6 linked regions of the Homo sapiens genome follow. The protein of the gene in region 1 purifies or fractionates together with the protein of each later gene. This does not show direct contact. Each region holds a gene or a part of one and is shown on either strand. Other genes may lie near its edges. The genes, in order: PAX7, SLK, NFIA, MYH14, AKR1B1 and NFIB.

What was found.
Region 2: the proteins of PAX7 (region 1) and SLK purify together in Homo sapiens (affinity purification with mass spectrometry; one large-scale study listed by BioGRID and IntAct). This does not show direct contact.
Region 3: the proteins of PAX7 (region 1) and NFIA purify together in Homo sapiens (co-immunoprecipitation; one large-scale study listed by IntAct). This does not show direct contact.
Region 4: the proteins of PAX7 (region 1) and MYH14 purify together in Homo sapiens (affinity purification with mass spectrometry; one large-scale study listed by BioGRID and IntAct). This does not show direct contact.
Region 5: the proteins of PAX7 (region 1) and AKR1B1 purify together in Homo sapiens (co-immunoprecipitation; one large-scale study listed by IntAct). This does not show direct contact.
Region 6: the proteins of PAX7 (region 1) and NFIB purify together in Homo sapiens (co-immunoprecipitation; one large-scale study listed by IntAct). This does not show direct contact.

The regions. Positions count from the first base shown.
Region 1 is NC_000001.11:18,700,346-18,703,845, reverse strand, and holds part of PAX7 (paired box protein Pax-7), read right to left. Parts: intron 3,194-3,500; coding exon 3,028-3,193; intron 753-3,027; coding exon 550-752; intron 1-549. UniProt on the Homo sapiens protein: Transcription factor that is involved in the regulation of muscle stem cells proliferation, playing a role in myogenesis and muscle regeneration.
Region 2 is NC_000010.11:104,022,640-104,026,139, forward strand, and holds part of SLK (STE20-like serine/threonine-protein kinase), read left to right. Parts: intron 1-2,934; coding exon 2,935-3,081; 3' UTR 3,082-3,500. UniProt on the Homo sapiens protein: Mediates apoptosis and actin stress fiber dissolution.
Region 3 is NC_000001.11:61,089,061-61,092,560, reverse strand, and holds part of NFIA (nuclear factor 1 A-type), read right to left. Parts: intron 1-3,500.
Region 4 is NC_000019.10:50,252,122-50,255,621, reverse strand, and holds part of MYH14 (myosin-14), read right to left. Parts: intron 2,984-3,500; coding exon 2,869-2,983; intron 403-2,868; coding exon 304-402; intron 1-303. UniProt on the Homo sapiens protein: Cellular myosin that appears to play a role in cytokinesis, cell shape, and specialized functions such as secretion and capping.
Region 5 is NC_000007.14:134,452,601-134,456,100, reverse strand, and holds part of AKR1B1 (aldo-keto reductase family 1 member B1), read left to right. Parts: intron 1-3,500. UniProt on the Homo sapiens protein: Catalyzes the NADPH-dependent reduction of a wide variety of carbonyl-containing compounds to their corresponding alcohols.
Region 6 is NC_000009.12:14,118,642-14,122,141, forward strand, and holds part of NFIB (nuclear factor 1 B-type), read right to left. Parts: intron 1,984-3,500; coding exon 1,799-1,983; intron 1-1,798.

The sequences.
Region 1 (3,500 bases):
TGGATTCTCACCACAGACATGTGGCAGGGGGCACTTCATCCCTTCCCCCACGGATATTTGGGAGCCTGCTGAAGCTACAAAAAAATGAGCCCATCAGTTCCTCAAGTTCATTGGGACTTCCGGCATTATCAAGTCCTGTTCCCCAAACTCACCAATAACCACCATCAGCGCCCACATTATCTCTCTGACTTCATCCAAAGCAGGTCCTGTGACTTCTAACAGCACCCCGAGGCAATGAATGACTTAACCAATCACACAGGAGCAAACAGAATTCCATTGACCAATCAGGGTAGAGTTACCGGCCCAGAACCCCATCCACAATTCTCTCCACCAATAGGACATGGTCCTGCCTTTCAGGAATTGGTCACTCCTGGTGAAAAGCCAAGAGCACAGGACAGAGTCCAGGGAGGATTCCTGATTCTAGAACAAAAACCCCAACCGCAGTCAGCCTGCTACAGGAAAGAGCGCAAGGCTTCCACCCACGTGCTGTCTGCAGATGTCTGACTTTCGTGGCGGTGGGATCCTGGGTGCTGGGCTGAGACCACCTACCTGAGGAGACAGGCCGTTGCTGACCGGGTTCATGTGGTTGGAGGGCGCCGCCGGATTCATGAAGCTGTCAGAGTAGCTGGAGAAGCTGTGGCGGGCTCCGTAGGCAGAGCTGGTGTCGGCGGCTGCAGCCGCTGCAGCCAGCCCGCCCTGGTGCATGGTGGACGGTGGCAGGGGCTGAGGCCGGTGCACAGTGCTGCCCCCATCTGTAGAGAGACCCAAGAGAGGTCCTAAGCAAGTGGCCTCATCCTGGACGCTGGGCCTCTGAGAGCAGAAGGCAAGCCAAGAGACTCCTCCTCCCGGTCTCCATTCCTTGGAGGGAAGGGACCACCCTCTCATGCTACCTGGGATGAGACAAGTTGGCTCCTGGGCAGGGCAGTAGGCACTGGCCAGGTCTTGACTGACAACCCAACATTCTAGACAACCCCTAGACAGGTGCACACCAGCCACTGTTCCTCAGTGCTTGGCACACAGTAGGTGCTCAATAAATGTCAGCTGGGCTGAAAACCAGACCTTGATGGGGACTCTGTTAATCTACCCAGTCTGTTTTGTTTTGTGAGCGTCAACCACTTGCCAGGTGCTTTTACAAACGCTGCCTAAGGGTATGAAGCAAGACTGTAAATCCCATTTTACAGATGAAGAAACCAAGGCTTGGTGGGCTTGGGGCACTCACACAAGATGACCAGGCTAGTGAGTGATGGGACCAGGATTTGAATGGCCTAACTCTGGAGCCATCTCTGTTCTTTGCTGCTAGGCTGTTATTCTGCGCTCTCTGGGCCCTTCTGTGCAGCTTTGCAGAGGCTGGGACCCTCAACACTGGTTCAATTTATCTTACCAAGTCACAGTGGTGCTGGAGGGGGCTCTTTGACTCTTTCCTTGGCCTCCAGAACTCCAGCCTGCCAGTCATTTAAGAGGAGGCTTTATGAGGTAGCTATCTTTTTTAAAATTTAATTTTTTTTTTGAGATGGAGTCTCACTCTGTCGCCCAGGCTGGAGTGCAGTGGCGCGATCTGGGCTCCGTGCAACCTCCGCCTCCCGGGTTCAAGCGATTCCCCTGCCTCAGCCTCCTGAGTAGCTGGGATTACAGATGCACGCCACCATGCCCAGATAATTTTTTTTTTTTGTATTTTTAGTAGAGATGGAGTTTCACATGTTGGCCAGGCTGGTCTCCAACTCCTGGCCTCAAGAGATCCGCCCGCCTCAGCCTCCCAAAGTGCTGGGATTGCAGTTGTGAGCCACTGCGCCCAGCCCATGAGGCCAATATCAAGTAGTGGTATTCCTGGTGTGTGCTGGGACAGGGCTTCTGGGGTGACAGAATGAGAGCAAGTTCCGGTGAGGTAGGGGGAGGGAACCCTTCTTCCCCTACAAGGCTCACCTTCTCTCCTGAGACCCAGACTTTCCTTTCCTCTCCCAAGGCCCCCTGATCCCCTATCCTCTCTCACCCACTCACCTTCTTCCCTCTGCCTATCCCTTTCCAGCGCTAGAAGGGAATCTTATACTTCAAGCCACTGGGAGAACTGGGCTCAAGTGAGGCCTCCTTCCCAGGAGGACCTGAGGGCTCTGACCCCTCTCAGCCCAGCCTGGCCTAGGGCTGTTCACCCCAGAGTGGGGGGAATCCCTCATAGGGAGCTTTCTCAGGTCCTCAAAGGAGACCCTGACCTTTATTCCATCTCTGAAAATGGATCTTTCCAGAGAGAGGCAAGAAAATGAGGTCCCAGCAAATTATTTAAGCCCCTTTGTAAATTTTTTTTTTGTCATAGGTTGGAGACCAACATAATCTAAAAAAAAAAATGATTCCAACATGATTCCAACATCTTCCCAACAAGTACACACACACGTGCACATGCACACACTCATGCACACACTCACACACTCATTCACTCACTCATACGCACACACTCATGCACACACCCACACACACTCATTCACTCACTCATACGCACACACTCATGCACTCACACGCACACACTCATGCACGCACTCACACGCACATTTGTACTCATGTCACTCTCTCACTTTAAAAACTCAAAGACTGTGACTATGCATGGTCCCAAAGTCCCTGCAGAATCCGTTCCTTTCCCTCCAAAGCAGGTCAGCCCAGTGTCCTCTCCTCCAAATCCTCGCTGCTCAAAGCCTGGTCCATGCTCCACCAGCTTGGGCATTCCCAGGGGGATTTTTAGAAGTGCAGAATCTCAGGCCTCACCCAGACCAGCATTTTAGTAACATTCCTGGGAGATCCCTGGTACCATTTGAGAAGCTCAGTTCTAAACAGGTGCACAGGGGCTGCCTTGGGGATCCCACCTGGCTGCTCTGTGTCAGGGCCAAGAATTTCAAGGGCAGGATTGCATCTTTTTGCTCTCAATAGCCTGCTTACATGAAAGTAAGAAATGGTCATAAAAAAAAGAAGAGCCTTTGTAAGTGAAAGTAAAGAAAGAAGGGAAGGGGCACCACTGAGATGGCAGGACGGGGCCAAGACACTCACCTTGGGAGATGGTGGTGGTGGGGTAGGTGGAGTCCGGCAGCTGGTAGGGGGGCAGCGTGGGCATGCCGGTGGGTGGGAAGCCTCCTGGCAGAAGGTGGTTGAACGCCGCCAGCTGGTTGGCTCCTGCCTGCTTACGCCAACGGGCGCGGCGGTTACTGAACCAGACCTGGGAGGTGGAGAGCAGAGAATGGAGACCCCTCGGCCAGGTTCCTGGCAGAGAGCTGCAACACATGTAGACCCAGTTGCCCAAGCCATCACCCTCTGATCCAGCCAGCATCCTCCTGCAGGCCCCGGCATTGTGCAGCACAGGACGCTTTGCAGAGTGATTTCATAGGTATGACCCCATTCTGCCCTCACAACCACCAGTGAGGGGGTTCTATATTATCCCCATTTTACAGATGAGGAAACCAAGACCCAAAGAAAGTGGGTGACTTGTCCATGGGCCAGGTTGAGTCAGTGGTCCAGCCAGTCCT
Region 2 (3,500 bases), on another chromosome or scaffold:
CTCTGTCGCCCAGGCTGGAGTGCAATGGTGCGATCTCGGCTCACTGCAACCTCCGCCTCCTGGGTTCAAGCAATTCCTCTGCCTCAGCCCCCCAGGTAGCTGGGATTACAGGCATCCACCACCACACCTGGCTAATTTTTGTATTTTCAGTAGAGACGGGGCTTCGCCATGTTGGCCAGGCTGGTCTCAAACTCCAAACCTTAGGTGATCCACCCACTTGGGCCTCTCGAAGTGCTGGGATTATAGGCGTGAGCCACCATGCCCGGCCCATAGTGTGGCTTTTTAATTTAAATTTTCTTTATTGTTAAACTTTTTGAATAGGTAATGCATTCATGTAGTTTAGAATTCAAAAGGTACAGAATTGTAAACGGTGTAAAATCTCCTTTACCTACTTGCAGCCTAGCATCTGCTTCAAACACCCTAGTTGAACTAGTTGACAGTGGTCACAAGTGAGTTGCTAATAGTCAAATCCTATGGCCTTATCTAACTGTTCTCCTTAAAAGTCTTGTTTCTTAAAATTCTCCTCTCACCTGGCTTTTGTGACACAGCTCTGCTCATTCTCTGTGTTCTTTATCCCCTTTTGTCTCCTGAAATGTAGACATTTCTCAGTTTTGCCCCTGTAGTAAAGAACAGTCTTTACCTTGATGATTTTATTGCTAGTCATGGCTTCAACTGTTGCAGATAGACAACTCCAAAACTTAAATGGTAGCAGTTGTATAGAGCATGAATTGTAAAGTCATACAGGTGTGTGTTCAGATCTCAGTACTGACACTTACTGATTAATTTTCTCACTTACCATTTCTAGGCCTAGTTTTCCTAATTTGTAAAATGAGAGTGATACTACCTATTTGGTGTTGTTTATATAGCAGTTATCTAGTACCTGAGCTATAGTAATGGTTCAGTGAATGGTTGCTGTTGCTATTATTGTTTCTTGTTTTTATTATCAGTTTGGGCAGTAAGCGCCCATTTTCCATCTGGGTGTTATGCTCCTCCTCATTTCACCTAGGCCTTGTGACCTTTTTTGGTCACTGTATCTCAGTAGCACCTATACTGAACCCCAAACATTCTGTATCTGCTCTCCTTTCTTTGTTTTTCTTTGTAACAATTCATCACCACCAGACACATTTGTTTATTGTCCCCTCTTGCGAGTGAGAATATAAACTCCTTAAAAGCATGCCATGATCGCTTCATTTATTGATATGTACCCAGTTTCTAGAACAGTTCCTGGCACATTGTACAGATGACTACATACCTGTTCAGTGTTGACTAAAGAGTATAAACTCAGTAGAGAGAAAACCAAACTCAGCATCCTTTTCCTTCATCTCCATCTCACCTTTCCCCACTCACTGCAGGCCCACTCACTGCCAGATGTTCCTTCATCTCCATCTCACGTTTCCGCGCTCACTGCAGGCCACTCACCATCAGATGTTCTTTTCTGCATTCCTGTTCTCTTAACTGACATCTACGCTAGAAACCAGAATTATTTTTCATTTCTGTCACACCCTACATTCAATCAGGCGCCAATTAATTTGGACTCTTTTTCATAATGTGTCTCCTTTCTTTCTCACTGCTATCCTGGTGCTTGTTTAAATTATTCAGGAATTTCCTAATGGGCCTTCTAATTTCTAGTTCCCTTTCCTTTCTTCCCACTCGCCTGCCATCACCGGAGGATTTATCCTCAAGGACATCTCTTGACACTGTCATACTGATGTTGAGAAATCTTCAGTTCCATCAGAGTAAAATGTAAATTAATGCCTCAGTTTGACTGTGAAGCCTTCATAGTGCCACACCTGAGTCACAGTCACCCTTTCTAGCTTCCTCTCCCACTAGCCACTTTGTTCCCAGTCCAGGTTCCAGCCTTGGGTATAATGGCCACTCCTCATACCAGCTCCTCGGCTTCCTGCCTTTGTGCTGTGTTTCGGCTCTGTTTCTGGCATGCCTTCCCTATGCTCCCTATCAAATTCTTATCTTTCCTTCAGCACTAAGCTCATGTTTCACCTCTTTTGAGAACCCCTCCTATATCCTTCCTTCTTTTCCTGTGCTTTGTACCTCTACAGCACCACTTATCCCTGAATCACTTCTCCACAAAGTCATTGATACCTGTAACAAAATGCCATAAACTGGAGGCTGGGGAGTCTGAGACCAGGGTGCCAACACGGTCACGCTTTGATGAGGGCCCTCATTTGGGTTACAGACTGCCGACTTCTCACCGTGTCCTCACAGGGCGGAATAACAACTCTCTTTAGCCCCTCATGAAGGCACTCATCCCATTTGGAGGGCTCTACCTCATGACCTCATCCCTTCTCAGAGGTCCCACCTTCTATGCATAGTATCCGCACATTAGGGATTAGGTTTTTATATGGATTTGGGGGGCACAGACATTCACATCACAATGGTGCCTCTTACATTTCTCAAGCACTTATTTTTGCTCTGTATTATGGGGATAAAAATGATTCTGATTTAAGTTGTACCTTTAAACAGCTTATATTATAGTCTAGTGTGAAAGAAAATACAGGCGCATCGTAACTAAAATAACAAGTAGGCAGGGGTAAGTGCCATGTGGGAGAAACACATAATAGTTAATAATAGGTACCATATATTAGAGTGCATAGTATGTGTAAGTACATCATTATCACATTTATACTTCACATAGCAAATTATCCCTATTTTTACAGCAGAGGAATTGAGGAATTAAATGGTTCTCTAATATAGGGAAGTTAAGTAATGGACCCAAATTGTCCATTTATGTGGCTGAGCTGGACTTGCACATAGGGCTGTACAAAGCTTATGATCTTAAAAAATTGAGCAGGCGTGTCTTCTTGAGGATTATATACAAAGAAAGTGTTTTGGACAAGTAGTTTTATCTTGGCTGTCAGCATAAATTCTATATATAATACCAGCACATAGCAATTTCTTTTTCCCTTTCTTTTTAAGACACTGGAAGAAGAGTTTGCCAGGAAACTACAGGAACAGGAAGTATTCTTTAAAATGACTGGGGAGTCTGAATGCCTTAACCCATCAACACAGAGCCGGATTTCCAAATTTTATCCTATTCCCAGCTTGCATTCCACCGGATCATAACAAAGGGAAGCATTCTGTGCGTGGGTTTGGCTCTTTCAGTATGTCATTCTGTTCTCATCTTCTGCCACAGTCTCTCAGATAGCTCATGAAGACAATCACCTGCCTCACCTTCTAGGTGTTTTCCTTTTTTGTTTTTTTTGTTTTGTTTTGTTTTTAAGCAAAGATGAAGGGAAAACGAACTAAGACAGACGCTAGGCCATGTTGGCAAAGTAGCATCTTGGTGACTAAGGTGACTTTGTATATTCATCTTAAAAATTATGTTCTTTAGACACTGCTACCTGAAAACTGTTGGAGAAATAATGTTTAAAGTTATTTAAGAAAAACTGTTACATCACTAAGTATTAATAAATTCTTCTTACCTGACGTAACTTCTCAATGCCTAAATTCTGTAGTTGAAGCTCTGCTGCAGAGAGTTGGGA
Region 3 (3,500 bases), about 42 Mb from region 1:
GTTGAGTAGGTTTATAGGACAGGTATCAGGCTTCCGAGACACTGAAACAGCTCCTTCAGTGATTGAAAGGATCTTTGCTATTCCTGATGCAAGCAAAATTAAGTAAAGGTAATAATGGTAGCAGCATGGAAGCAATCAGTAACTACTGCACTAAAAGATTACCGTGCAAAAGTGTTCTCTTTCTACCTTAAAACTAACAAGTACTCATACTGCTGCCATTAGGACAACAGCAACTTGCTTTGTCACTGGCTAATTAACAATTAAAGCAATTACCTGACAAATTGTGGTCACTTATTAATCTTTCAAACTGAATTTTAAGACTGCTAAAAATACTTCTAATGTTAGAAAATTCCTCATCTGCAAAAAGTGAAGATGGCTCACTGTGATTTAGCTTTTAGGCCTAATGTCACTTGAAAATTAGCAAAGGCCTTAGTTGAATTAAACATAAATTAATTTGTTTAATTTTAGATTTTAAATGTCCCCACACAGCTGCCTCCAAGCTTTTATTCTACCCCATGGCAGGTAATAATATCAAATATAAATTGTGAAACTGTCATTCTATGGCCTAAAAATAGCAACCTGCCTCTATCCAAGAAATGAGTCCTTAAAAAGTATAACCTTTCACAAAATCTAACTAATTTGACTGAGAATCTTTCTAGAATCTGATTACATTACCAGAAGTTTATACAGAAGTGGTTAAAAAAAAAAAAACAACAACTCTCCAGAAACTTCTCGGTTGAGTGCCTACTAATGAACAAAGGTTAACTTTATCTAAAAGGTCAAATGCCTGGTGGCTAAGGTTATGACCTTAACAACTTAAATTGTGACCTTGCCACGTGCCGGGTATATTGTAGATTCTGATACAGATCATCTGGTAAAGACTGGTCATAAATTAGCTTTACTGTTACACACCCACAAAGAAAACCATTTGCCACAATACCATAGTATCCCCAAGTTGTCATATGATACATGGGAAGGACAACTCAAATTGAGACCAAATTAAGGGCATAAAATGGTTTTGTTCTTTTAACAAGATGAAATTCTCAGGCTTATGAAATCACTCCAATTTCATTACACTTGTTACTGCTTATCAGCCACAAAATTCACAGTTCTAATGCCACTGGATTTAGAGGGAAAAAACTGGAATGTAGTTTATGTATTATATTTTAGCATGTCAATAAGTCTTAGAATAAATCACCTCCGCTTTAAAAAAAAAAAGATTGATTCTGCATTTGCTTCTAGTATTCTCACGTATGTTCTGAGATTTCAACTTCCTACCAAAGAAAGGTGGACACATAAAGCAAGAATTATTACACACAAATTTCAGAAGGAAAAGAAGATCTAATTTCTATGACCATCTAGGGGGAAAAAAAGGCATTCTGGAAAGGAAAAAAATATAACAATTTAAAAGAAAGAGCGAGAAAAAACGCATTATAGGTGAAAAGGCCACAATGGTTTTGGCATGTATCTTGAAGCACGTTTCAGAGTCTCTGCCTCCTGCCAATACTGGCAAGTTCTCAAAACTTTTAAGGAGGTAAAAACATTGTTTAGTGTTTACAAATCTTCAGTATTATAACAGATGCTTGTCAAATCAGTTGTATGTAAGTTGACCGATCTACCTCATATTTGTATTGGCAGCTTCCCTTCCACAAATAACAGGTCTCTGAATCTCTTAAATCAAATTTGAAATATTTTCAGACAAAAGACCCTTAATATTTTCTTTTACAGTCTTCCTGTTGCGCGCACAGAGAAGCAGCCATTACTGCGGTCCCGTGAAAACCAATGGCCAAACATTTGGCTGGCATTCAGGCATAACAAGGGATTCTGGGATACATCAGGAAAACCAAACCGAAGAGTAGTCTGATCTATGCTGCTGTCAATAAATCTTTCATAAGCAATAAGGATGCTAACTCTCCTAAGTAACCTTCTAAATGTCATTTTACCAACATAACCCCTTCAGGCATTGCAACAACCAACAACTGTGTTAGTTCAAGGATTGGGAGCAATAGCACAGTAACAAACCAACGACGAAAAAGAAGGCACGTAATGAGAACAGCGAAAAGATTGCATTTCTTTAAATAACAGAGAAATGTTTAAGACGAAAACTTAGAATGGACACTGCTTACACCGACAAAAACTTCACAGGTATTTCATTTTGATGTTATCTTATATGGAAGCACACATCATGATCTGCATCACCTGTTGGCACTTTCAAGTTTCGATGTTGGTCATCTATTCGGGATAATTTATAGGTTATATTTTTCTAAATATCTAAAAGGTAAAAACAAGATTTTAAAGAGTGCTTCTTGAAAGCACCTGTAACACCTATACTTTTTTTGCGTTTTGCTGTGCTTAACATATGCAGACACATTTTTTAAAAATTTTAACTTTACTTTTTCAGTAAACAAAACAAATGAACAACAACAGGGTTAAGAGTGGGTTAAAAAAGGGCTACTTATTCCTGCTTAGAGGTCACTTGAGAGGTGCTGACTTTTCATTCTTGCTACCCAGAATTGGCTAAAGCAAAAGGCAATTCTTATAATTAAGTATACATTTTTGAAAACCCAAATATTTGAAACACTTACAGCTCACATCCTCTAAAATACTCATCTATCCCCTGCCAACAGAATGCAAATGATGATGTGACATGCTTGCAAAGCTAATTTCTCCAGTTTCTTATGTAAGGGCAGATGGATAACAAAAGTTCTCTTTCTAAAACATATATTGAGAAAAATAATAGAGAACAGGCTATCAGCTGGCTTCTTTAAAAACTCACTAACATTTTTAGAATTAAAAATGTTTTGAAGAAAAGTGCAGTGTTTTTACAGGTAACATCTCTCCTTTGTAAAAAAAAAAAAAAAAAAAGAAAAAAAAACGTTAAATATTTGAACCCCAAAACAACCTACTGGTAGGATTCCACAACCCTCTTTCTTCCATCTGGCTCAAGTAACTGCCATGAAGGTAATCTAGCAAGACCGATATGTACATATATAAAGTCAACAAGTTACACAAGACCTGAGCGTTCACATAGCACAATGAGCCTTTTGTCTAAAACAAGACGAAAGGAACAAAGTAAAAATGCATTATTTTATCCAGTCCTCAATAGTTTTATCCTGCATGCTATTCTAAACACTGAAACATGCACAGGTAAGACATGCCTTGAAAAAACAGAAAAAAAATTTAAGATTTTACAATCAAAGCAACTCACTACATCAATTATCAATAGCAATTTTTCAATGTGTTCATGCAATATACAGGTTGGTTATTTTTAATATTAACCTCTCCATCAATTACTGAAAGAGCTGGTTTGTTTCCCTTAGCTATCTGAGACAACACTAAGAATTCCTAAATACAAAGCTACTAAGTCTGCGTATTAATGTGATTATTTTTCCTTCCTAAATGATCAGCAATTTGATAGTAATCTACCTCCAACTTCTTAATTGGCAAGGGGTTCAAGAGGCCTCAGTAGGTTAAAAACACTCCCAGCAGAAAACCAACTA
Region 4 (3,500 bases), on another chromosome or scaffold:
AATGGGGTGTTGATAATTCTAAAGGGGTTTCACATGGTGAACGGCACATAGTAAGTGCTCAAGAAACGCGAGCTGGTACTATCACGCTTGTTTGTACTTTTACATGCAGTTTAGTTAGAAGAAGGGGTTCTGCTGCTACAGAGTCTGGAAACTTCCAAGGGAGCCAACAAGGAGGGAAAGGAAGAGTGAGAGACCTCCACAGTAAGAGGAGAGGGGACAGATGTTCAAAACCAGGTCCCCAGCCCAACAGGTCCACCCTCCTCCTCCAGCAAGCCTCACCCATCGATGCACAGAGACACCCACCCCCTGGCGGAGAAATAGCAGAGCTGCACCTCTCTGCAGATCCTGGGGGCGACGGTGGGAAGGAGCCAAGGAAAGAGAACTGCTGGAAGCCCCCATGTTCTGGGGAGTGAGGACAGATGTGTGGGTGGGTGGAGGGGAGATGGCAGAGAGATGGCGGAGAGAGATGCATGAAAAGAGGGGAAGGAGAGGAGGTGGCAGGAAGAAAAAGAGGAGAGGGTTATTAGTCAACAGTACAGAGCAAAGCAAGATGGAAAACCAGAATGTTGGCCATAAACTTCTGAACTCCTGTTCATCTTTGTATCCACACACTGTTGGCCAAAAGGACGAATGTCCTCTGTAAGAATTCAGTGCAAAGAATAAAAAATCTCTCCCTCTAGAGGTTGTGTCTGTTTTAGTAGGTTGCCCTTTTTGCTCTGGCTGCCAGGAAGCTCAAGAATGAACTTGATGCTCCCAGGCCACTTGTTGTTTTTGCCTCTCAGAGGAGAGCTAATCTCATTTCCGTTTTTCCCTGGGCTGTCAGGATGCTGGGCATCCAATTCTGGGCTCAAAGCAGCTCTAGCAGAGATTGGGCAAAAATGGCCCCGATTCCCCACTTTCCCCTGTATTGACACCCTTTGCCTGTGTCTTGCAGCTCCTTGAATCTGGGAAGACCTTGTGACTAGCTTTGTTTAGGAGGATTATGGAGGAAGTGACATTATGGCAGCTCCCCAGCTACTCGGGAGGCTGAGCCAGGAGGTTTTGCAGCTTCCACTTTTTCTTTTGGAACCCTCTGAGAGTCAGGCACACACAGAGTGTGACAAATGAGGGCTCACTGTGGAGAATCATGTGTTTATGAAGACAGCACAAATATTTTAAAAGGGCAGCAGATTTTCAGCCGGGAGATGATTCTCGTAGCATAATCTGGTTCTGTTCCTGAACATCAAACTCTGCTTTCCAATCTCCTTGTGTAAATACTATATGAGACATAAAAATAAAATCTATCTTTCTAGCATGAGCTCACAAGATCAAGACCCTCCATGCTGTTTTGCTCTGTGAGTGTGTTTTGGGAACCACTCACCTTGCTCATTTTGTTTTCTTTTTTTTTCCTTTTTTTTTTTTTTTGAGACAGAGTTTCACTCTTGTTGCCCAGGCTGGAGTGCAATGGCACGATCTCGGCTCACCACAACCTCCACCTCCCGGGTTCAAGCGATTCCCCTGCCTCAGCCCCCCGAGTAGCTGGGATTACAGGCATGTGCCACCACGCCCAGCTAATTTTGTATTTTTAGTAGAGATGAGGTTTCTCCATGTTGGTCAGGCTGGTCTCAAACTCCCGACCTCAGGTGACCCGTCCACCTTGGCCTCCCAAAGTGCTGGGATTACAGGCGTGAGCCACCGCGCCTGGCCGCTCATTTTGTTTTCTTGCCAAATTGCATGGACTGGTATTTCTACAGCTACCTTTTCATGTCAATAAAAGATTAAGGCAAACTGACAAATGCCAGAAACTTGGAACCTGGAAAAAACAGGATGCCAGTTCTGCCAGCTTTCTAAAACCATTTCTCAAACCTCCTCTAAGGATGGGGGGGCAGGGGCAGTGGCAGAAAAGGCTTGGAAAAGGTCAGAGTCCTACCACAGGGCATTTGGCATCTCTGCCTATGACCCCTAGAAGTGTCAATCCAAAAAGACAGTCACACTCATGGGGGCCTTTTGGGGGCAGGAAAGCCCTCCAAAACTGTATCTCAGTCTGTTTTTTCTTTCTTCTTCCCTGGGGGCGTGAAGGGAACTTTGTAAGAAAACAAAGAAAGCAAAGCCTAAAAGTTGACTGACCTGCAAAAGATCATCATTCTGTGTTCTCTTATTGTTATAAATTATTTCTCAGTAGAATTTTTTTTTTTTTTTTGGGACAGAGTCTCACACTGTCACCCAGGCTGGATTGCAGTGACACAATCTTGGCTCACTGAAACCTCTACCTCCCAGATTCAAGCGATTCTCCTGCCTCAGCCTCCCTAGTAGCTGAGACTACAGGCATGCACCAGGACATCTGGCTAATTGTTGTACTTTTAGTAGAGACAGGGTTTCACCATGTTGGCCAGGCTGGTCTTGAACTCCTGACCTCAAGTGATCCGCCCACCTTGGCCTCCCAAAAGTGCTGGGATTACAGGTGTGAGCCACCATGCCCAGCCAAATCTCCTAATTGTTTAGGGAACACAGGCCATCTAAAAATAATAAGTTTACTTCTTCCTGTTCGATATTCATACTTTTTCTGGTCTGATTGCATAGGCTAGTATTGCTAAAAAAACGATGTTTAACAGTAGTGTTAGTGGGTATCTTTGCCACGTTTCTGATTAAGGCGGAGTGCTTTATCCTTGAGAAGGATGCTGGCTTATCAATCAAATCAATAGTCAATCAATTAATCTATGGATCCATCCATCACTGATTTGAAATACTATTTGTGACACTGGCTATTCTGGGTCTGAGCAGAAAACTCAGGTTCAGACCTCCGCCTCTGAAACAAAGGTGCTCACGCTGTGGATTTGGAGAATGGCCGCACAGACCCCTAGAGCCGGGGTGGGGGAAGTGGGTCCTCACCGTCTTTCCAGATCTCTGCCGTCAGCCGGTCTGTGCTCTGGTGGAGCAAGGCTGCGACGTTGTCATTCAGAGGGTCCATGTTTTTCATCAGCCACTCGTTGGCCTTGTAGTCGACCTGAATGAAGTCAGGTAGAGGAGGGCGATGACTTGCAGGCTCAGACATTCTCTGGATTTCCTAAGGAGCCTTCCAGAAGCTCTGAGACTCCCAGGTCTGGAGCTCACCATGGACAAGCGAGCACTGGTGCCACCTTGTGTCCATATTCTGAACTGCACCCCACCAGCATGGTCCCCTCTCTCTCCTTCCCCTCTATGCCCCCTGCCACCTCTGTGACCTCCACCACCACCACTTTCTTCCTATTCATTCCGCTCCAGCCACCCTGGCCTCCGCACTGTTCCTCAAACATGCGAGCTTACTCCCACCTCGGGGTTTTACCCCTGCGGTTCCTGCCACCTGGGGTTCTGTCTCTGTGGGTTTCACACCACTGGCTCCTTCTGGGTACTCAGGGCTTTGCTGTGGGGCTCCATAGAGTCACGATCTTGGCCGCTACAATTCTCTGCATATGTGCCCCCCACCAGACAGCGGTCCCCCGAGGGCAGGGCCCAGGTCTGACTCACGGCCTAGCAGAGGGCTG
Region 5 (3,500 bases), on another chromosome or scaffold:
AGGCAGGTGCAGTTCCTTATTCTCCTGGGTCTTCCCATGCCGTAGCGGCTGTGTTGTACCTTTCAGACCCTCAGCAGGGCTCTGGTAGTCTCTACTCTTGAAGGTCCTCAAACTCCATTCTCTTCTCAGGTGAGGGTTTCAGGCAGATGGGGAGACCATCTCTGCCCCAGACCCATGTGGCTTGGACAGGGTTTCTTTCTGGCAGTCTTGCCTTCTACATTGGATAGTAAACAATTACACCTGTAATCCCAGCACTTTGGAAGGCCAAGGCGGGTGGATCACCTGAGGTCAGGAGTTCGAGACCAGCTGGCCAACATGGTGAAACCCCCTCTCTACTAAAAATACAAAAATTAGCCCGGCATGGTGGTGGGTGCCTGTAATCCCAGCTGCTTGGGAGGCTGAGGCAGGAGAATCACTTGAATCCAGAAGGTAGAGGTTGCCATGATCTGAGATTGTGCCACTGCACTCCAGCCTAGGCGACAAGAGCAAAAAAAAACTCGGTCTCAGAAACAACAACAACAACAAAAACCCATCACAGCATTGTAAAGCCAGGAAGCTTTTAAAACAGAGATGATGTCTGGTGCCCACCAGTGTCTTGTTACTGATAGTGTTTTTAATCTAGTTGAAAAATTGTTGGAGGTAAAAGTCATTGTAAGTCTCCTATGTATGCTCACAGAATACTCCTAGGGCTGAAGGTACAACTATGTTTCTCCATCTTTTGCCATGATCACTACCTCCCTCCCACCTAGGAGCCTTGTGAGACTTTTTTTTCCCCTAATTTGCCCCAAAATAAAATTGTAATATCAGAGATAATATTGTACTTCTGCTTATGGCCAGTAGCCTTCTAGAGGGTCACAAGCTGTTCTATAAGCTGAGGGGGGTTTTTTTGCCCCAGAGAACTAATTTTTGTCTCTTTGGGGACAATAGCACCCACTTTAAGAATGCATGAGGTAAAAGAAAATGTGCCAGGAAAGACTTGCTCCACCTTCCCCAAGTGGGGTAAGCTTGTGATGGCCCAAGATCCTTGGATGGGGTGAGGGTTGAGGCGCTGTGGGCATGGAGGTAACACAGGAGCCAGATTTACTGTTCACTTCCCTGGTGTCTCTAAAGCCCCCATCTCTTCCTCTTCAAGACCAAAGACATTTAAATAAGCCCTGCCCCTACAGGGTCAGTCCTGGTCCATGCACATCTCAACTAGTTGGAAACAGCAGTGTCTTAGAATTTGGGACAAATTGATTAAAACAGAACAGGAGGAAGTTAATTTCTGCTGCCAAACCTGATTCTGAGTGATCGTTTCCTGTTCCTTGCTCCAGGATTATCAGCACAGCATTCTCATGCTTCCTACTCAGGACCGTTTCTTTACCCAAAGTGAAGTTTCCTTTGCCCCCTCCCCTTATCCTTTGATTTCAGTAGTAACACCTGCTAACTAGAGAACATTTCAAAAATGAAGAGTTCCCTGTTCCCAGAGATCCCCGTGGTTAATATTGCAAAATATCCAATCTCTGAGATACTTTGGTTTTACCATAAACACTGTCCTGTGACCGTCTTCCTGTTTAGCACTGTGGCTTGCTTTTTGACTTGCAGAGGGAAGAGAGGGAGGGGTATCTTGAAGTAACTAGCAAGACCTGTAAGCAAAAGGGAAGAAGACTAGGTTTTAAAAGGAGTGTTGTATCTGTGTAGGAGGGAGACACTGATTTTAGTTATCAGTGTCTCAGAGTTGGTATTAGCCAGCCGGTGTTATCAAAGGAGGAACTAGGACCGCTGTCTTGAAGGAGGTGGTGGAGGACTCAAGGGCAGAGGCTTCTCACTGCCATCACTTGGTGCCATCAGCCCAGAGCATTTCAAGTCACTGCCCAACGTAGAGCTTTGCAGAGCCAGAAGTTCTGGGAGGAATGGGCATGCATGGTTTTGCCCATCAAGGGCACACAGATTAGTGGCAGGATCGGGTTAGAAACATGTAGGATTTGTATGATTGAGCTGTAATTGGAGTGTTTCATATACTGCATTTCTACAGCTCTCATCAGTAATGGCTGTGCCTGGATGCCACCCAGCATGTTTTCATAGTTTACCTTCTTTTTAGAAGTCAATCTGGACCCCTCCTTCTGTTTGCATTTTCTCTTTGTTGACATGGAATGGGGAGATGTTGTCATCCTGTGTTGGCATTCCCAAGTTTAGTGAATGGTTTCTCACCATAGCTTAAGTTGGCTGCTTCATTTTTCATAAGGCAAATTAGTTTCTCTCAGGGAAGGGCTGTACATTGAGATCATTAACATAGAATGTGGTTGTGGATCCTCGTACATTTTCATTGCAGAGGTGACTTTTTCCCTCCAGCACCTTTGATCAGCCTCCCAGCACACATGTCTCCAGCGAATGGCACATATCCAAGGAATGATCAGCAGCTTCTTCGTGACCTCTTGCAGTCATTGCTGTCTTTTACTTTTCTAGAAAAACCTCTCACAACTTTTTTTTCATGTCGTGCCAACGCAAGCTTGATTATCCTAGTCTGTGCTCTTTTGGTTCCAAAGAACTGAAAAACCACTTTAATCTTAAGCAGGAAAAAAAAAAGTGTGTTTGGGGTGGGGATTGATTGACTTCCCCAAACAACAGCCGCTGACATTAGGTGTTTGAGATTCAGGGTTGTAAATGTTGTCACCAGGATTTGGCCTCCCTCCACTTTCCTGCAGCAGCTCCAGGCTGACATTCTCCCAGCTCAGTGACCCCAGCAGAACCGGGGCTGGACTCAGGGGTTCCAATTCAAGTGCAAAGATTGAGTCTTATGGCCTGGATTGAGTCATGTTCCTGTCCCCGCACCAGTTGCATGGCAGGCAGTGCGTGGCTAGGCTGAGCCTGCGGAGTGTGCCCTCAGCAGCTCCTCAGAGAAAAATCAATCAAGGCGCCATCAAGCCTGGAGAAAGTTCAGTGTGTCCTGGGCAGTTTCCTGCCTGGGCCCCAGTTGTTCTTTCTGGGGTAGGGATGTCCTCTGCTCTCCCTGCTGTCATCAGTGGTGGTTGTGCCCGGACACCACTCAGGGCCTGTGGTAAGGCATTCTTTCTGGAAATTGAGATTCTCTGTTCCTTCAACCGTGCAGAGTGGGGAAGGCTGCAAGAGCAGCTTCTGAGGTCCTCCAGTCAAATAAGAGGTCGCCAGGTCCTCTGAGGGTCGTCCCCTCTTAACCCACACCTTCGATGAGCATCCCCACCCTGCCTCGCTGCTCCCTCTGAGGTGGAGAGTGAGCTCCATGCTAACAGGCTCTGGTAACGGGCTTGTTCAACTGGGCCCCTTTCTTCCCCAAAGCCTGTTGAAAATAGCTGATGTCAAAACACAGATGTCTGCAGCTGCTATGGCCCTGGGGGGTTTTTCTTTTCATTTGTTTCTACCCCAGCTCTCCAAAGGAATGTGCTCTGTTCATTCAACAGCCCGCTGCACATGTTTATTGCTCAGCTCTGTGATCATAGCAGGATAGTGAAAGTTGGGGGATACGTGTCCATGCAGCCTACCTG
Region 6 (3,500 bases), on another chromosome or scaffold:
GATAGAAAAGAGAGATGTCTTGTCTGAAGGTGAAGCTAACAGCATTAGGAAAGGATTATTCTACTTTATACACGGTTCCTATTATACAAAATCCTGAGAGTTTTTTTGTTGCTAGTTTTTCTTTTTCTTTTTTTTTTTTTTTTGAGATGAGAGTAATATGCTTCCTTAGAAGGTGATATGTATCTTGAAAAAGTGAAGAAAAACTGAGAACAATATAGGCAGATTATCACCTAATATGCCCTCTTAACTTATAAAGAAATTGAAATATACGTAAAACAAGCACTGAATAATTAAAGAAATGTGTAACACTAAGGGCCTGATTTTAATTTGCATAATTTTTCCCCTAACAGTGCCTAATTAAGACATCAGTTAAAAAAAAAATCCAATGGAACTCTAAGATTTTCCACACTGAATTAACGTTAAGGACTTTTAATGGATGTCTTAATTAGACTTTGTTATTCATGGAAATTCTACACAAATTAAAATCAGACCTTGTGTGCACTGTTCCCAGCTGAGTCTAGCAAAATGCTCTATGGAACTGAGACTTCTGAATCCATGAGCTGACAACAAATTTTATTTCTAAACGATATACTAAGATCCCACTCTCACTTAGCTGTCTTTAGTACTTCAGTCATGAAAAGTGCTACAACATTTTAACATTTTCTTCTAAAATACAAATAATAATTTTAACTTCAAATTCAAAATTCAATATTGAGTTTAATATCTCAGTCAGTCAAACTAAAAGTAATGATAACTTTTTAAGTAACCCAAAGGGTCCTGGATGCGTTGTTATTCTAAATTAAAAGTTCAGAAAGGACCATTTTGTTTCATTTTAACAAATTAAGACCAAAGGGATTTTTTTCTCACCTTTCTTTGCTAATTTAAATTGATAGACACACACTATTTACTAGCATTTCAGGAATGTTCCACCGTAGTAATGACGGAATGTTTGTGAAAATTCTCCAAAATATTAAAAGGTATAATAAGTGGACAGGAGTCTTAGAGGTAAAGCAGCAAAGCTAAATATCAGATCCTAATATCAAAATTACATTACATGTTTTAGATATTACAATTATTGATAGCCCCAGGTCTGGCACAAAGACTGTCTACTTGATTGTGGAAAATGCTCATATACCAAATTCCTATGAAGTAACCTCTTGGTAGAAGAAACCATATGTCTAGGGGAGTGAGAAATGCTCATGAGTCACTACACTTACAAAATGAATCCCCAAAACCACTGCACAATGTTTCCAAAAAAAAGAAAGACGCTTCTAGTAATGTCACTCATTATTAAATGTAAGTCATGTCTCTGCAAAGAATATTCAAGTAGTCATCAAACACTGAGAATGTTTACATTACCAAAGCTTATTTTAATACCTAATAGTTGGTCTATAAATACAACTGTAAGTTCTTTTGTGTGTGTTTATTTTAGCACATACCTTACTCCTGCCTGAAATAAGCACATTGTCTCTGTGTCAAACCAGGTATTTAAGAGGTGTGAACTCCAGCCCAGAGCTTTCCTGTCAATGTACTTTCTGCATAAACTTTCCCTTCAGTCAGTGAAAATCCAAAAACATTAAACCATCTTCACAAATGTACCCTTTGGGGCAACACACTTCCTACCTGTCATTCAGCCACCTTTAAATAAAAACTTATTGAGTCACCAAGCAACTTCCTGAAGATGGATTTCAAGGCTTGACGTTCTGCCAGACACACTGTCTGACTAACCTTTGTGTCTCAGAATTAGATCTGTCCCATCTCCCTTAGGTGCTAATCTTATTTTCTCTCTTATTTTTACCTGGCTGGTTTGTGGACTGGATGGGTCATAAGAAGGTACATAGTTCTTCAGAGTATCCTGAGGATTCAGGTGGGGAGGATATCTGATTGTTGGATGAGAAAAGTAGCTCGATGGGGCTGGAGGAAGGATAGCTTGTGTTGGAAATGGCAACGGTGAAGGTGGAGGTGGAGTTCGAGTTGAGATGACTGCAGAAGACAGAAAAGGAAAGATTGACTCATCAGCTGGTTACCTTATTGCTCCATTCTGATCCTGAAGAATGCTGTGAAACTACAAAACTGGTAACCATTCATTTTTGTCCCCATGATTTAACCAAGCTCTCCTAAATCAACAGTTACTTTTTCATTTTTATTCTCAACACCAGTACGGCTAACTACACAGAGATAAAACATCACTCTAGAAAATTAACAATCTTGCTTCCTGGCTCTGTGAGTGGTTACAAAATCAGTTTCTCTTTTATAGGTTATGTCAATACTTGATAAAACACTTCTTTGAGCAAAGATATATCCCGTTGAAAACATATTCTTTGATTATAAAATCTTTAGGCCGGGTGCAGTAGCTCACACCTGTAATCCCAGCACTTTGGGCGGCTGGGGCAGGTGGATCACCTGAGGTCAGGAGTTCGAGACCAGCCTGGCTAACATGGTGAAACCCCATCGCTACTGAAAATACAAAAAATTAGCTGAGCATGGTGATGGGCACCTGTAATCCCAGCTACTTGGGAGCTTAAGGCAGGAGAATCACTTGAATCCAGTAGACGGAGGTTGCAGTGAGCCGAGATGGCGCCATTGCGCTCCAACCTGGTGACAGAACCCCATCTCAAACAAACAAACAAACAAAAAACATTTTGTCTCATAAGCCCCATCTCAAACAAACAAACAAACAAAAAACACTTTGTCTCATAAGTCCAGAGCAAGTCACAGCATTAAGTAGAGGGCAAAAGAGCCAAAAATTTTCTACCAAAATTAAAAACAAAAGTGAAATTCAATTTCAAATAAAACGTTTCCCTGTACATCCTACCTGGCAATTGTTTAGAAGGAAAGACAATAACTAATACAACATCATCTCATGTCATTTATAATTGTCTGGTCATGGTATAAATGCTTATGAACATTGGAACATAGAGCTAGAAACTCTCCTAATGAAAATGTTTCTTTCAAAACCAAAAGAGCTCTATTCTGCAACTATTTTTCTTTCTACTTTAACTTTTACTATATGTAGTTTAAAAGATATTGTTAATATAAAACCAAGAATAAAACACACAGCAATGAAAATTTAAGCTTTCATATAGGTAAGTATATTACTTTACCCATATATCACATATTTTATAATAATTTTATAAAGGGAAATACTATATAAAACACATGCAATGTGGACAATGTTCAATTTTACTATAACTTCTCAACATTAGTATTCTTATAATTTATTGTTCAGTTTTTGAAATATAAATCTTAAGTTTGAAAGATGGAGAAAGAGTGTAATCGTATGATCATTATCTCTAAAATGTTGAGAGAAATAATCATAGAAATACAAATTAAAACTACCAACAAATATATGTAGAAGTGAAAAGTAAATGTCTTTCTATTTTAATATTTCCCAATTCAAATAATAGGAAATTATAAACGATAAATGTCTAATGTTTTATGAGACAACTTAAAGAATATGAAAAAAAATAAATTTTAGCCATAACCTACAAAGGGAAATC